Linked DNA regions of Homo sapiens. The protein of the gene in region 1 interacts with the protein of each later gene in a pairwise test. Each region holds a gene or a part of one and is shown in the gene's direction. Other genes may lie near its edges.

Region 1 (3,500 bases):
GATTTTGAATAGGGGTGATAGGATATTCTTGCCTTGTACGTCATCTTAGGAAAGAAGCATTCAGTCTTCTATCATTAAGTATGATGTTAGCTGTGTGTTTTTTGTAGATGCCCCTAATCTGGTTCAGGATGTTCCTTTTTATTCCTGTTTTGTTGAGGGTTTATTATTATTATTACTGTTATGAACAGATGTTGAATTTTGTCAAAAGGCTTTTCTGCATTTATTGAAGAGATAATTTTTTTTTTCTTCTTTAGTCTGTTGTTACGGTAGGTGATGTTGACTGATTTGCAAATAATGAGCCAGCCTTCCATTCCTAGAATAAGTGTCTATTGGCTGTGAAGTATTATCCTTTTTATATATTGCTGAATGCAATTTGCTATTTTTTTGTTTAGGATTTTCGTGTCTTTGTTTATGAGGGATATTGGTCTGTTCTTTTATTTTAACATCTTTATCTAGTTTTGGTGTCAGTGTAATTCTGGCCTCATAAAAAAAAGTTGACTTATTTCCTCCTTTTCTGTTTTCTGGAAGACTTGTTTAAAATTTCTATTATTTCTGTTCTAATTTTTTGATAGAATTTGACAATGAAGCTCTCTGAAATGTTATACATTGCATGACTGTTTACCTTTAAATAATAATCCGCTGCTTCAGGTATAGTGTAAGTACCTTAAAACAGTGTTTTCCCATCTATTGATCATATTTATTTCAGATTCTTTTTCTGAAATTCCTGTATTATTATTCCAGGTTATCTGTGTGTCTGCTTCTGTTGATTGTCACTTGACAATGAGCCTTTTGTTTCCTTTGCCTTCTTTTGTTTGTTTGTTTGTTTGTTTGTTTGTTTGTTTTTGAGACAGAGTCTCACTTTGTTGCCCAGGCTGGAGTGCAGTGGCGCAATCTCAGCTCACTGCAACCTCTGCTTCCTGGGTTCAAGGGATTCTCCTGCCTCAGCCTCCTGAGTACCTGGGATTACAGGCGTGCGCCACCACACCCAGCTAATTGTTATATTTTTAGTAGAGATGGGGTTTCACTATGTTGGCCAGGCTGTTCTCAAACTCCTGACCTCGTGATCCGCCCGCCTTGGCCTCCCAAAGTGCTGGGATTACAGGTGTGAGCCACTGCGCCTGGCCTCCATTGCCTCTTCATTGTAATTTTTGATTTCAGTGTTGGACATTGTGTGGAGGGCAGTAGGCAAGGTCAAAAAACTTTTTCTGTAATGGGCCAAATAAATATTTTGAGTTTTGAGAGCCACGTGTAGTCCCTGTTGCATGTTATTCTTCTGGTTTTTACTTTTAAAAAATTACCCTTAAAAAATGTAAAACCTGGCAGGCTGCAATGGTTCATGCCTCTAATTCTGGCCCTTTGGGAGACTGAGGTGGAAGGATTGCTTGAGCCCAGGGGTTTGATACCAGCCTGGGCAGTGTGGTGAGACACCGTCTCTACAAAAAAATGTGAAAAATTAACTGGGCGTGGCCACATGTTCTGTGGTCCCTCTTTCTTGGGAGGCCGAGGTGGGAGGATGGCTTGAGCCCAGGAGATTGAGACTGCAGTGAGCCATGATTGTACCAGAGTACTCCAGCCTGGGAGACAGAGCAAGACCCTGTCTCCAAAAGGAGGAGGAGGAGGGGGGGGGGAGGAGGAGGTGGTGGAGGAGGAGAGGAGGGGGGGGGAGGAGGAGGAGGAGGAGGAGGAAAGAAGAAGAAGAAGAAGAAAAAAAAAGTAAAACCATTCTTAGCTTGCAGGCTGTACAGAAACGGGTCATGGGCTACCTTTGGCCTCTGGGCCATGCGTACCCTCTCTGTAGAGGGGAATGAGGTGGGTAGATAGTGTTATATTCAGGAATGGCCACTCCTCTTTTTCCGCTGGGTTTTCATTGTTGGGGAGTTAAGGTGGGTCTGGGTTTTGTTGTTGTGTATGTACCTTCCATCCCACTGGCTTCAAATTCCTCTAACCTTTCCTTGAGCTTAGGATGAGGGCTGAGTTGCCAAAGCGTCTTCACCCATGGCTTTTGGCCTTGCCTCTGTGTCTGCCTTAGCTGCCCCTTATCTTTGGCAGGTCTCTACTAGAGAAAGTTCCCCTCCCTTCCCCCAAAGTAGGAGGACTCTAACAGGCTGGCTTAAGATGGCTCCTGGACCCTCCCTGAGGGCTAGAGCAGATTGCCTTTTATCTTCCCTGGCCACAGCAGTCTTCTGATTCTGTAGGTGAGAAGCTTCTTGTTAGGGCTTAGTGCTGTGGCAGCTCCCACTGAGAGACTGTTCAGTCTGCTCTTTCAGTCTACATCTTAAAAGGTTTTTTTTTAATTTTTTTATTTGTTAAGTAAATGTGCTAAGAAAGAGGTGCTGATTTTGAGCCTGGTTCCAGTTGCAGTACCCAGTCAAGGAGTGAATTTACGGCATCGTAAAGGCTGCCAGTAGAGAGGAATGGTAAGGAAAGTTGGCTCCACTCTGGTGATGGATTGAAGCTTCCAGTGGGTTTGTCTAGCTATTTTTTAGTGGTTGCTACAATGTATGCAAGGCTACCAGATTCTATAAGTCCTGGGGCCATTCCCATGGAAAATAAACAACGTGAATTTTATATACCCAGTGACATTGTGTAAACTCAGTGGCCCTGATAAGTGCTGTATCTGTATGTGGTCCCTGAGGGATTTGCTGCAATTGGAGTGAAAAAGAAGTAATACTTTTTAAAACAATCTTATAAGTGGACAGAATGCTACTGTCGACAAAGAGTCAAACTCTGCAAAATATTTGAAGAGATTTGTTCTGAGCCAAATATGAGTGAGGTCCTGAGAACATGTGCCCAAGGTAGTTGGGTGCGGCTTGGCTTTATACATTTTAGAGAGGTGTGAGACATCAATCAAAAACATTTAAGAAATACATTGGTTTGGTCCAGAAAAGTGGGACAAAGCTGGGGGGCGTGGGGCTTCCAGGCTATAGGTGAATTTAAACATTTTCTGATTGATAAAGACCTGGGATTGATAGAAAGGGAATGTTCAGGTTAAGGTAAAGATTGTGGACATCCAAGTTCTTTTGAAGTCTTATGGTGGCTGCCTTAGAGACAATAGATGACAGATGTTTCCTATTCAGATCTTAGTTAATCTCTTTAGGATTAGGAGGGTCTCGAAGAAAAAGATCTAGCTATGTTAGTAGAGATTCTTTACAAATGCAGATTTTCCCCCACAAAGAACAGCTTTGCAGGGCCATTTCAAAATATGGCAAAGAAACATATTTTGGGGTAAAGTATTTTTATTTTCTTTCTTGTCTCATAATGTTATGCCAGAGTCAGGTTGGAAAGTCATGATATATAGGGTTAAATAAAACCCATCTGATGAGAATTTGTGATTTGTAGGACATGACTCCCCAGACCCCTTAGATAGGAATTTGGGCAAGATAAAAAAAATCAGAGTTTAGTCCTCACTAGCAAACAGAGAAAGCCCTCATCTTTCTAGTTTAACACTTTAAAATTGTATGACTGTAATATTTGAAGATGATGGTTATTAGACTATTGAG
Region 2 (2,302 bases), on another chromosome or scaffold:
TGCAAGTGTGAGTGTGTATATGCATGTGTGTATATGCATGCCATGTGTGTGCATGTATGTGTATATGCATATATGAGTGAGTGCACGTGACAGTCTACACGTGAGGGTGCATGTGTGTGCGCGTGTGGGTGACTGCATATGTGTGTGCATGTGTGGGTGCGGGTGCATCTGTGTGTGCATGTTTGGGTGCGGGTGCATGTGTGCGTGCACGTGTGTGTGGATGAGAGGTCGCATGTGTGTGGGTGAGGGCGTGTGTGTGTGCATGTGTGTGGGTGAGGGGGCATGTGTGTGCACGTGTGTGGGTGAGGTGTGTGTGTGCATGTGTCAGGGTGTGTGTGCGCGCATGTGTGTGGGTGAGGGCCTGTGTGTGCGTGTGTGTGGGTGAGAGATGTGTGCGCATGTGTGTAGGTAAGGGTGCTTGTGTGCGCATGTGTGTGGGTGAGGGCGTATGTGTGTGGGTGAGGGCACGTGTGCGCGCGTGTGGGTGAGATGGCGTGTGCGTATATCCATGTATGACTGCATCTGTATTTGCATGAGTTCATGTGTGAGTGCATGTTTATACGCGTGTCAGGGTCTCTGTGTATGTGTATGACGTGTGAGTACATGTGTTAATGTGTGTGTACATGTGTATATGCCTGTGTGCATGTGTGTATGCATGTGTATACATGTGTACTTGTGTATGTGTATATGTGTATGTCTGTATATGTGTGTGTATGCCTGTGTACGTATGTATATGCGTGTGTGTATGCATGTGAGTGCATGTTTATGCGTGTGTATGTGTACTTGTGTGTGCCTGTGTGAGTGCATGTGTGTGTACATGTGTATATGCGCGTGTGCGTATGCGTGTATGTGTACGTGTGTATATGCATGTGTGTGTATATGCCTGCATGTATATGCACAAGTGTGTATATATGTGTATGTGTGAGTGTATGTGTGCATGTGTATCTGTATGTGCGTGTGTATATGTGCATGTGTGTATGTGTGCGTGAGTGTGTGCATGTGTGTGTGTATGTGTGCGTGTGTATGTGTGTGCGTGAGTGTGTGAGAGTGTGTATGTATACGCACGCGTGTGTGTCTGTCTCCCTCAGGACAGTGCCCAGGCGGATGGGTCAGTGCTCCTGGGTTGGTTTGCCCCTGGTGGCCCATGTCTGAGCCCTGCCCCTTACGGCTCTGTCTGCAGGTTCTCCCATGGGCAGGTGGTCTCTCTGGATGAGCTGCGCCCCTTCCAGGACCCAGACCTGAGCTCCCTGCAGGCCGGCTCTGCGTGTCTGGCCAAGCACCAGGATGGCCTCTGGCACGCAGCACGCATCACCGGTGAGGCTGGCCGTGGGGGCCTCCCGGGAACACCCTCCCAGGCCCCACGTGTGTTGTCACTGTGTGGCTGCTCCCTGCTTCCTTTGGGTTGAGTGTCGGGACTCTGGCTCTGGGCCCGAAATGAGCACACCTACCCTCAGCCTCTGCCCTGCCTTGCTCCTCATGTCCAGGGTGGTTCCCTTCAGTGGCACCTGCTGTCAAGGATTCTGACCTGCAGCTTGTCTCTGCCCCCAGATGTGGACAACGGCTACTACACAGTCAAGTTTGACTCGCTGCTGCTGAGGGAGGCCGTGGTGGAGGGGGACGGCATCCTGCCCCCACTGCGCACAGAGGCCACAGAGTCCGACTCAGACAGCGACGGTACGGGTGACTCCAGCTATGCCAGAGGTATGGCAGCAGCTGCGGAGCCCAGGAGCCAGGAAGGTGGGGTCACCCTGAGAGGCTCCTGGCCGGTGAGGGCACCAACCATCTAACCAAACTATTGGAGAGTGTGTGACTGCGGCGAGGGTGCCACCTGTGCCTGAGGAGGCCGTGTGGGTAGGGGTAGATCCGTGGCGGCCTTTATCTTCAAGGAGTGTGGGTGCAACAGCTACAGTCTCATTGATGGGAGGCCATGGTCGTGGCTGTGGCCATGGGAGAGGAGGGGCCTGGAGTTGCCGAGGAAGTCACAGAAAATGACCAACTGATGGGGCCTGGAGTGCAGGAGGGGCAGCTCCTCTGCATGGCTTCTCAGACTTGGGACCTGGGTGCCTGGGATCCTGGCAGACAGAGGTTGTGTCCAGACAGCCAGCATGGAAGTTTCGGGAATGGGAACTGGTGGGCAGTGTCCAGCTCTCCAGAGGGGTGTGTGTATGCGTGTGCGTGTGTGTGTATATATGTGGGAGGTCACCTGACCCAAGCATGGCGGGCTGAGTCCAGGAGGGGTCTGCATGTTGGAGGTGTACCCAGGGATCAGTGATGGTGGTTTCTGAAGCCCCATGTCCCTGGT
Region 3 (4,010 bases), on another chromosome or scaffold:
GTAATTAGCTACTAAAAATACAAAAAAATTAGCTAGACGTGGTGGTGCATGCCTGTAATCCCAGCTACTCGAGAGGCTGAGGCAGGAGAATTTCTTGAACCCTGGAGGCGGAGGTTCCAGTGAGCCGAGATCGCGCCACTGCATTCCAGCCTGGGCGGGGGAGCAAGACTCTGTCTCAAAAAAAAAAAAAAAAAAAAAAAAAAAAAATTAGCCAGGCGTGGTGAAACCCCATCTCTACTAAAAAATATAAAAATTAGTCAGGCGTGGTGGCGGGTGCCTGTAATCTCAGCTACTCAGGAGGCTGAGGCAGGATAATCGCATAAACCCGGGAGGCAGAGGTTGCAGTGAGCCGAGATCGCACCAGCGCACTCCAGGCTGGGTGACAGAGTGAGACTCTGTCTCAAAAAAAAAAAAAAATTACACTGCAAAAGGCTCCAAAAAATACAGAAACAAACAAGGAAGAGACAGGAACGTGCATCTCATCTGGCAGTTTTCTGAGCCTCTTCTTGGAGCCTCACGCAGTGGTCGCCTTGAATGTATCAAAATCCATTGTGGTTTAAATCTCGGAGGCATCTGGGAGGCAGTGAGGACGGCTCTCACCTCCCCGCTGTCCTCGCCGCTGCCCCAGGGCCTCTGCACGGCTGCCTCCTCACCTGCTTTGGGACTGTTCAGTTTTACCTTCTCCGTGGGGCTCACCCACACCCACACTGCTACCCTGGGCCCCAAACCTGTCTGCGTTTTCCCTCACGTTCAGTGCCTCCTCATACACCAGACTGTGTTCACTTATCACATTTACTGACGACTTTCTCTCTCCCATCCTGAGAACATCTCCTTCTTTTCCGTCTGTTCGTGTCCAGTTCTCACCACCCCCAACAGAGGCTGGTACACAGTAGGTGCCCAGTACATGCTTTGGCAGGAATGAGTGACAGGATGAGGCAGTGAATGCTTCTTGGCTCAGAGCTGAAACTCCCAGAGTTGTGTACTTGCTGTATGACCTTGGGCTGTGCCTCAGTTTCCCCAGGTGTAGAAACGGGGCCACGCCACCCACGACCCCGCCAGGCCCTCCTGCTGCAAGGCTGTGGGTGTCATGTTTGCAGGTCTAGTTCCCTGGGGCCGGCCCTGGCCCCAGCTGCCCAGCTCTGCCGGCTCCCGGGAGACGCACTCTGCTGACACCGGACTCTTTCCTGGACCATCCAGCCGCCTGGCCGACACTCGATCCCGGCCCCACTTCCAGGCCAGTGTCCGGCCGACCAGCCTGCCTTGGGCCAGGGCCCCACGACTCCCTGCTGCGGGACAAGAGGCCGTCTGTGCGGCTGTGGTCGTGGGAGGGTGTGGTGAGGCCGTGAAGGTGGGGACGGTGCCTGGGCCTGTGGCCGCCAGAGCTGCTGCGGCTCAGAAGGTAGCACCAGGCCCCGTGGGTGCTGTGGGGGCCATCGCCTGCCCACCATGGGGACCCTCAGCTGCGACTCCACCCCACGGCTGGCCACAGCCCCCCTTGGCCGGCGAGTGACGGAGGGCCAGATTCCGGAGACCGGCCTGAGGAAGTCCTGTGGGACGGCCACCCTGGAGAACGGTGCGTGCCAGCCGTGGGGGATGGGTGGGACCTTTTCCTGCTCCACTCCCCATACTTCTGGGGCTTCTGGAATGTTCTGGGAGCCCAGCAGGAGGCAGGAGTTTCAGGCAAGTCCTTGCCCTTCCCCAGACCTCAGTTTTCCTTCCGGCAGGATGGGTGTGGACACGGGGTTGCCGTGAGCCCCGAGTATGTGTCTGTCCAACGGAAGCTGCGTGCTTTGCCAGCCGGGTCCCCTTCCAGGGGCTGTGGGTACAGCAGTGGGCAAAGCCACAGCGATCATGCGGGAGACGCGGGGAGGAGGGAATATTTCCAGCGTGGCCCTCAGGGACGGGCGCCCTAGACAACGTGGGGCAGGGCGAGGGGCGCGTGTGCGGAGGCGGCTCTGCTGGGAGCCACATCAGCTGCTGGCCTCGGTGAGGGCCCAGGACGGGCCGCAGTTTCCTCACCCACAATTAGCGGCTGGAGTCAGGCCCCAAGCCAGGTCCTCGGGCTGGTTCTGTGGTCTCTCCTGATCCCTGTGGCATCGAGATTCTGCAGAAGCCACAACACATGGCGTCTGTGACCGTGTATCTCTGGGAGGCTCAGGCCTCAGTCTCCCCATCTGTGATCGTGTATCTCTGCCTGGGCCTCAGTTTCCCCATCTGTGACCGTGTATCTCTGCCTGGGCCTCAGTTTCCCCATCTGTGACCGTGTATCTCTGCCTGGGCCTCAGTTTCCCCATCTGTGACCGTGTATCTCTGCCTGGGCCTCAGTCTCCCCATCTGTGACCGTGTATCTCTGCCTGGCCCTCAGTTTCCCCATCTGTGACCGTGTATCTCTGGGAGGCTCAGGCCTCAGTCTCCCCATCTGTGATCGTGTATCTCTGCCTGGGCCTCAGTCTCCCCATCTGTGATCGTGTATCTCTGCCTGGGCCTCAGTTTCCCCATCTGTGACCATGTATCTCTGCCTGGGCCTCAGTCTCCCCATCTGTGACCGTGTATCTCTGGGAGGCTCAGGCCTCAGTCTCCCCATCTGTGACTGTGTATCTCTGCCTGGGCCTCAGTTTCCCGATCTGTGACCGTGTATCTCTGCCTGGGCCTCAGTCTCCCCATCTGTGACCGTGTTTCTCTGCCTGGCCCTCAGTTTCCCCATCTGTGACCGTGTATCTCTGGGAGGCTCAGGCCTCAGTCTCCCCATCTGTGATCGTGTATCTCTGCCTGGGCCTCAGTTTCCCCACCTGTGACCGTGTATCTCTGCCTGGGCCTCAGTTTCCCCATCTGTGACCATGTATCTCTGCCTGGGCCTCAGTCTCCCCATCTGTGACCATGTATCTCTGCCTAGGCCTCAGTTTCCCCATCTGTGACCGTGTATCTCTGGGAGGCTCAGGCCTCAGTCTCCCCATCTGTGACCATGTATCTCTGCCTAGGCCTCAGTCTCCCCATCTGTGACCGTGTATCTCTGGGAGGCTCAGGCCTCAGTCTCCCCATCTGTGACCGTGTATCTCTGGGAGGCTCAGGCCTCAGTTTCCCGATCTGTGACCGTGTATCTCTGCCTGGGCCTCAGTCTCCCCATCTGTGACCGTGTATCTCTGCCTGGGCCTCAGTTTCCCCATCTGTGACCATGTATCTCTGCCTGGGCCTCAGTTTCCCCATCTGTGACCATGTATCTCTGCCTGGGCCTCAGTCTCCCCATCTGTGACCATGTATCTCTGCCTAGGCCTCAGTTTCCCCATCTGTGACCGTGTATCTCTGCCTGGGCCTCAGTTTCCCCATCTGTGACCGTGTATCTCTGCCTGGGCCTCAGTCTCCCCATCTGTGACCGTGTATCTCTGGGAGGCTCAGGCCTCAGTTTCCCCACCTGTGACCGTGTATCTCTGGGAGGCTCAGGCCCCAGTCTCCCTGTCTGTGCCCCAGGGTGAGGGGGGCTGCTGTCCCCAGCTTTTCCTCTGTGATTCATGTCTGACTCACAATGCAGGCATCACATTTTGTCCCCGACGGGCAGCAGCCTCTTGCTCCCCGGGGCCCCCAATCCTCACCATGGAGGGAGAGGGGAACCCAGGCTAAGGCTCAGGAGCTGGGTCCAGGGCTCCTTCTTCGGGGAATCTGGGCCCAGGAGGTGACCTGAGGGCTTTGGGCTGCAGGCTCGGGGCCAGGCTTGTATGTCCTGCCGTCCACCGTGGGCTTCATCAACCACGACTGCACCAGGGTGGCCAGTCCCGCCTACTCGCTCGTCCGGAGGCCCAGTGAGGGTAAGGCGGGCGAGTGGGCGGCTGGAGGCTTCCCTGATCCTCCAATCTCCCCCCAGGAGCACTGATGGGTCTCCTTACCCCTTAGATCCAGGCCCCCAGTTAGTGCGGCAGGAAGCAGGCAGGGCTGGGCTGTACAACCTGCTCCACCTCCTACTTACTGTGAGACCTCAGGCAAGCTGCTGTCCCTCTCTGTTTTTTCATTGATAATGA
Region 4 (3,500 bases), on another chromosome or scaffold:
TTTTATACTCTTTACTCAAGAGGGACAAGGTCTGTGTAGTATCAGAAAGGAGAAGGACTGGTATGGAGTGAGCAAGGAATTGGAATACTGGTATCTGTGAGCACATGCCTCCATGCCTGAGGCAGAAACCCTTCTATGCCCCAGCTGGTGGGCACAGATGTGAATAAGACAAGTGCTGGGTGACTTTTACTTTCTGTGCTCCCATCTTCCAAACCAGTCCTCTATTGACCAGAAATCCATAGTGTTGAGAATGCTGATTTGCTCATGTTTTCAATAATAATAAAATAAAATACATTCACACAGACATACATTTTTGAGAGTATTAATAGTACCTATAAAATCTGGAACACAGTGCCTGCAATAATGAACATGTAAAAGCCTGTAGCTGTTATTGCTATTATAAAAGATATATGAACAGTCATTTAAAAGTTTGACGTATCTAAGTGTTTGAGGATCCCTATGTTGTAGACACTTTTTCAGTTTTGTCCCTTGGAAGATACTTCAGAGTGGGACCGATAACACCTGTTCTCATTTATTGAACAGAAGGACTAGTATCGGAGTTTGTGTGCAAAACAGCACATAAGTCAAATAATCAGGTGCAGATGCATGTTGTTGGTTTGGTGCTTTGGGCACTGTGCCTGGAACAGTAATAGTCCATTCCCAGTTACCTAGGCACAACTGGGCACAGAGGCTAACAGAATGCAGAAACCTTCAGATGATTACAAACCTAAGCTTGGATTACACCGTGCAACAACAACAAATAAAACAGTAGACATATCTCCCTGATCTAATTATTATTATGAAACAATGATCATCTCTGAGATAGTTAGTTGAAGGGAGATAGGCAAGCGAGTGTCAAGAATCATGCCAAATGATGGAGGGAATCTAAACTGAAATGAACACTTCGCTTAGCACAATTTCCAAAACAGAAAATCTCCAGACTTTATGACTAATGAACATTACGCCCCAACTTGGAAGATATGAGAAGCCATTAGGAGGATAATTCTGGAAAGAGAAGAGGAAAAGTAAAGTGTGACAAGACACATTCACATATAGTTCAAGATTGTGTCATGTTTCCAACCAAAAAGAGTCCTATATAGTGTTTGATAGAAGTCATGGAACTAGATAAGTCCTTCCCACAGTCTTTTGCCATCCCCATCCTTGGCCCTCCTCCTACACCCCCACAATTGATGCTATGACCCTGCTTTGTTTTCTCAGAAGTGAAAAGCTTCGGTGGATCTCAGCCTTGGCCATGCCAAGAGAGGAGTTGGACCTTCTGGAGTGTTACAGTGAGTGAGGGTCTAAGAGGGAGAGAAAAGAAAGCAGGGTCAGATGTCACCTTTGGATACAGGAGTTTAAAGGGCTGGGTGGGAACTCTAGGCTTTCATTTATTGATATTCCGTAAAATGTCAGGGTGGAAGATTGGCCTCTAGAGCTTAAAAACCTGAAATATATCGCCTAAAACTGCTCATCACTATGGCAGTCCCCCTTCCCCATACATTCCCTTCCTTGGGCAATAGTTTGCTCTTTTTAAAAATATTTGTCCCCTTAAGTCTAAGCTGACATTATTTTGCCTAGATTTTACCTGCTTGAAGGTCTTGTTGGGGTAGGGGAAGAAAGCCTGACGGTGGTAGAAGGTGTGCAGGAGGATAGCACCCCAGATCTATCTTGACCACACCTAAGAGGATGACCTGAGGTCACCTACCCCAGGCTTCTGGGTGCCCATGGGGAGCCACAGGCACACACACATTATGTATGTGTCTGTGTTCACACCAAGACTGGACTTCTTATGCCTCTCATGTCAGCCCCACAGTTGTCCTCCAGCAAAGATTCCCTAATTTAAATCCAGAGAGAATCTGACCTCAACCCTGGACCTTTAGTGACTGAAAAGAACAAACAACTACAAGGAACCCTGGGAATGAAGTAGGAGAGCCGTGTAGTAACTGAACGCTGTTAACTTGCTCACTGTGCACTCCATCTGCTGGCTTCAGTTCCCCAGTGGGTGAGGAGGGCAGGAGCATTCTTCCTCCTTCATTTTGACCTTGTGAATGGCAGATGGGGAGGATCTTGAGAAAGCAAATAGTAATGCAGTATTCCATTTATTTTACAAGAGAATCAAGGCAGTGTAGTAACAAAAAAGAGCCATAAACCCACATATGATGGAATACTGATAGGTGAAGCATTCTCTGAGGCTTGTTTTCTTGAGCTTCAGATCTATGGACATGTCTCCTGGTTCTCAAAAACATAGAAATAGAGAAATCTTGAATGTCCTCAAGATTCATCTGATCAACCTTGATCAATAACCATCTTGATCACTGATAGATGAGTAAACTGAAGCTCCAGGGCTTTCAGTCTCTGGCTTAGGTCAAACCTGGGACACCACTAGTTAAGTCTTTCTTGGTTCCACATCTGGTACTGGGAAGAAAATGAAGAATAAGACACAGACTCAGATTTTATAATCCAGTTGGAGAGGCAAAACACGTCCATGTAGCAGTTAAATAAGGGATAAATGCCTTGGCATGAACAAGCAGTCTTAAAAGAGTTCAGAACCCATTGAAGACTAGAGTCAGGGACGGTTTCAGAGGGAAGATGGGTCATTAGCTGGATCTCAGGTATTTGAGATGATCACATGTATTTCTCAACCCGTCTCCTCTGGAGAAGTGGAATTTTTGGTCCATTTCATTTCTGGTATGTCTATTTCTTTATTAACCATTTTCAAATTTCCTCTTTTGTCTGTGACTTTCAACAGCCCAAATCTGTCTCTATCTCAAGTCCTCCCACGCCACCCCCCTCCAAGTCCCTGTCTGTGTTCCAATCCCCTGCCTCTCCTAACCTCTCTTCACACTCTTCTCTTCCAAAGACTCCCCCCAGGTACAGTGCCTTCGAGCCTACAAGCCCCGAGAGAATGATGAATTGGCACTGGAGAAAGCCGACGTGGTGATGGTGACTCAGCAGAGCAGTGACGGTAAGCGGGAGCATGCGTGAGCAGCAGGCCAGGCACTGCAGGCAGGGCAGTGCTGGGAGTGTGTTCACTTCCTGCAGCTGCCATGACAAAGTACCATGGACTGGGTGGCTTATGGCAACAGAAATGCATTCTCTCACAGTTCTGGAGGCAAGAAGTCCCAAATCAAGGTGTGGGCAGAGCCACGCGTCTTTTGAAACCTGTAGGGAAGATCCTTCCGTACCTTTTCCAGTCTGGTAGCCCCAGCTGTTCCTTGGCTTGTGGCAGCATCCCTCCAATCTCTGCCTCTGTCTTCCTGTGGCTAGCTGCCTTCCTGTGTCTGTGTCCAAGTTTTCCTCCTTTATTTTTTTATTTTATGTATTATTATTATTTTTGAGACAGAGTCTTGCTCTGTTGCCCAGGCTGGAGTGCAGTGGCGCAATCTTGGCTCACTGCAACTTCCAACTCCTGGGTTCAAGTGATTCTCCTGTCTCAGTCTCCCAAGTAGCTGCGTGAGCCACCACACCTGGCTAATTTTTGTATTTTTAGTAGAGATGGG

The links. Proteins that work in one complex are often made in the same cells at the same time.
Region 2: the proteins of HSF2BP (region 1) and ZGPAT interact in binary tests that used the Homo sapiens proteins (3 or more experiments, as listed by UniProt).
Region 3: the proteins of HSF2BP (region 1) and CIMAP1D interact in binary tests that used the Homo sapiens proteins (3 or more experiments, as listed by UniProt).
Region 4: the proteins of HSF2BP (region 1) and ARHGEF5 interact in binary tests that used the Homo sapiens proteins (3 or more experiments, as listed by UniProt).

What each region holds. Positions count from the first base shown.
Region 1 is NC_000021.9:43,530,489-43,533,988, reverse strand, and holds part of HSF2BP (heat shock factor 2-binding protein), read left to right. Parts: intron 1-3,500. UniProt on the Homo sapiens protein: Meiotic recombination factor component of recombination bridges involved in meiotic double-strand break repair.
Region 2 is NC_000020.11:63,732,039-63,734,340, forward strand, and holds part of ZGPAT (zinc finger CCCH-type with G patch domain-containing protein), read left to right. Parts: intron 1-1,180; coding exon 1,181-1,314; intron 1,315-1,548; coding exon 1,549-1,701; intron 1,702-2,302. UniProt on the Homo sapiens protein: Transcription repressor that specifically binds the 5'-GGAG[GA]A[GA]A-3' consensus sequence. Represses transcription by recruiting the chromatin multiprotein complex NuRD to target promoters.
Region 3 is NC_000019.10:472,184-476,193, reverse strand, and holds the start of CIMAP1D (protein CIMAP1D), read left to right. Parts: upstream 1-1,210; 5' UTR 1,211-1,446; coding exon 1,447-1,573; intron 1,574-3,562; exon of another isoform or gene 3,563-3,692; coding exon 3,693-3,800; intron 3,801-3,885; exon of another isoform or gene 3,886-4,010.
Region 4 is NC_000007.14:144,375,902-144,379,401, forward strand, and holds part of ARHGEF5 (rho guanine nucleotide exchange factor 5), read left to right. Parts: intron 1-1,218; coding exon 1,219-1,289; intron 1,290-2,860; coding exon 2,861-2,965; intron 2,966-3,500. UniProt on the Homo sapiens protein: Guanine nucleotide exchange factor which activates Rho GTPases. Strongly activates RHOA. Also strongly activates RHOB, weakly activates RHOC and RHOG and shows no effect on RHOD, RHOV, RHOQ or RAC1.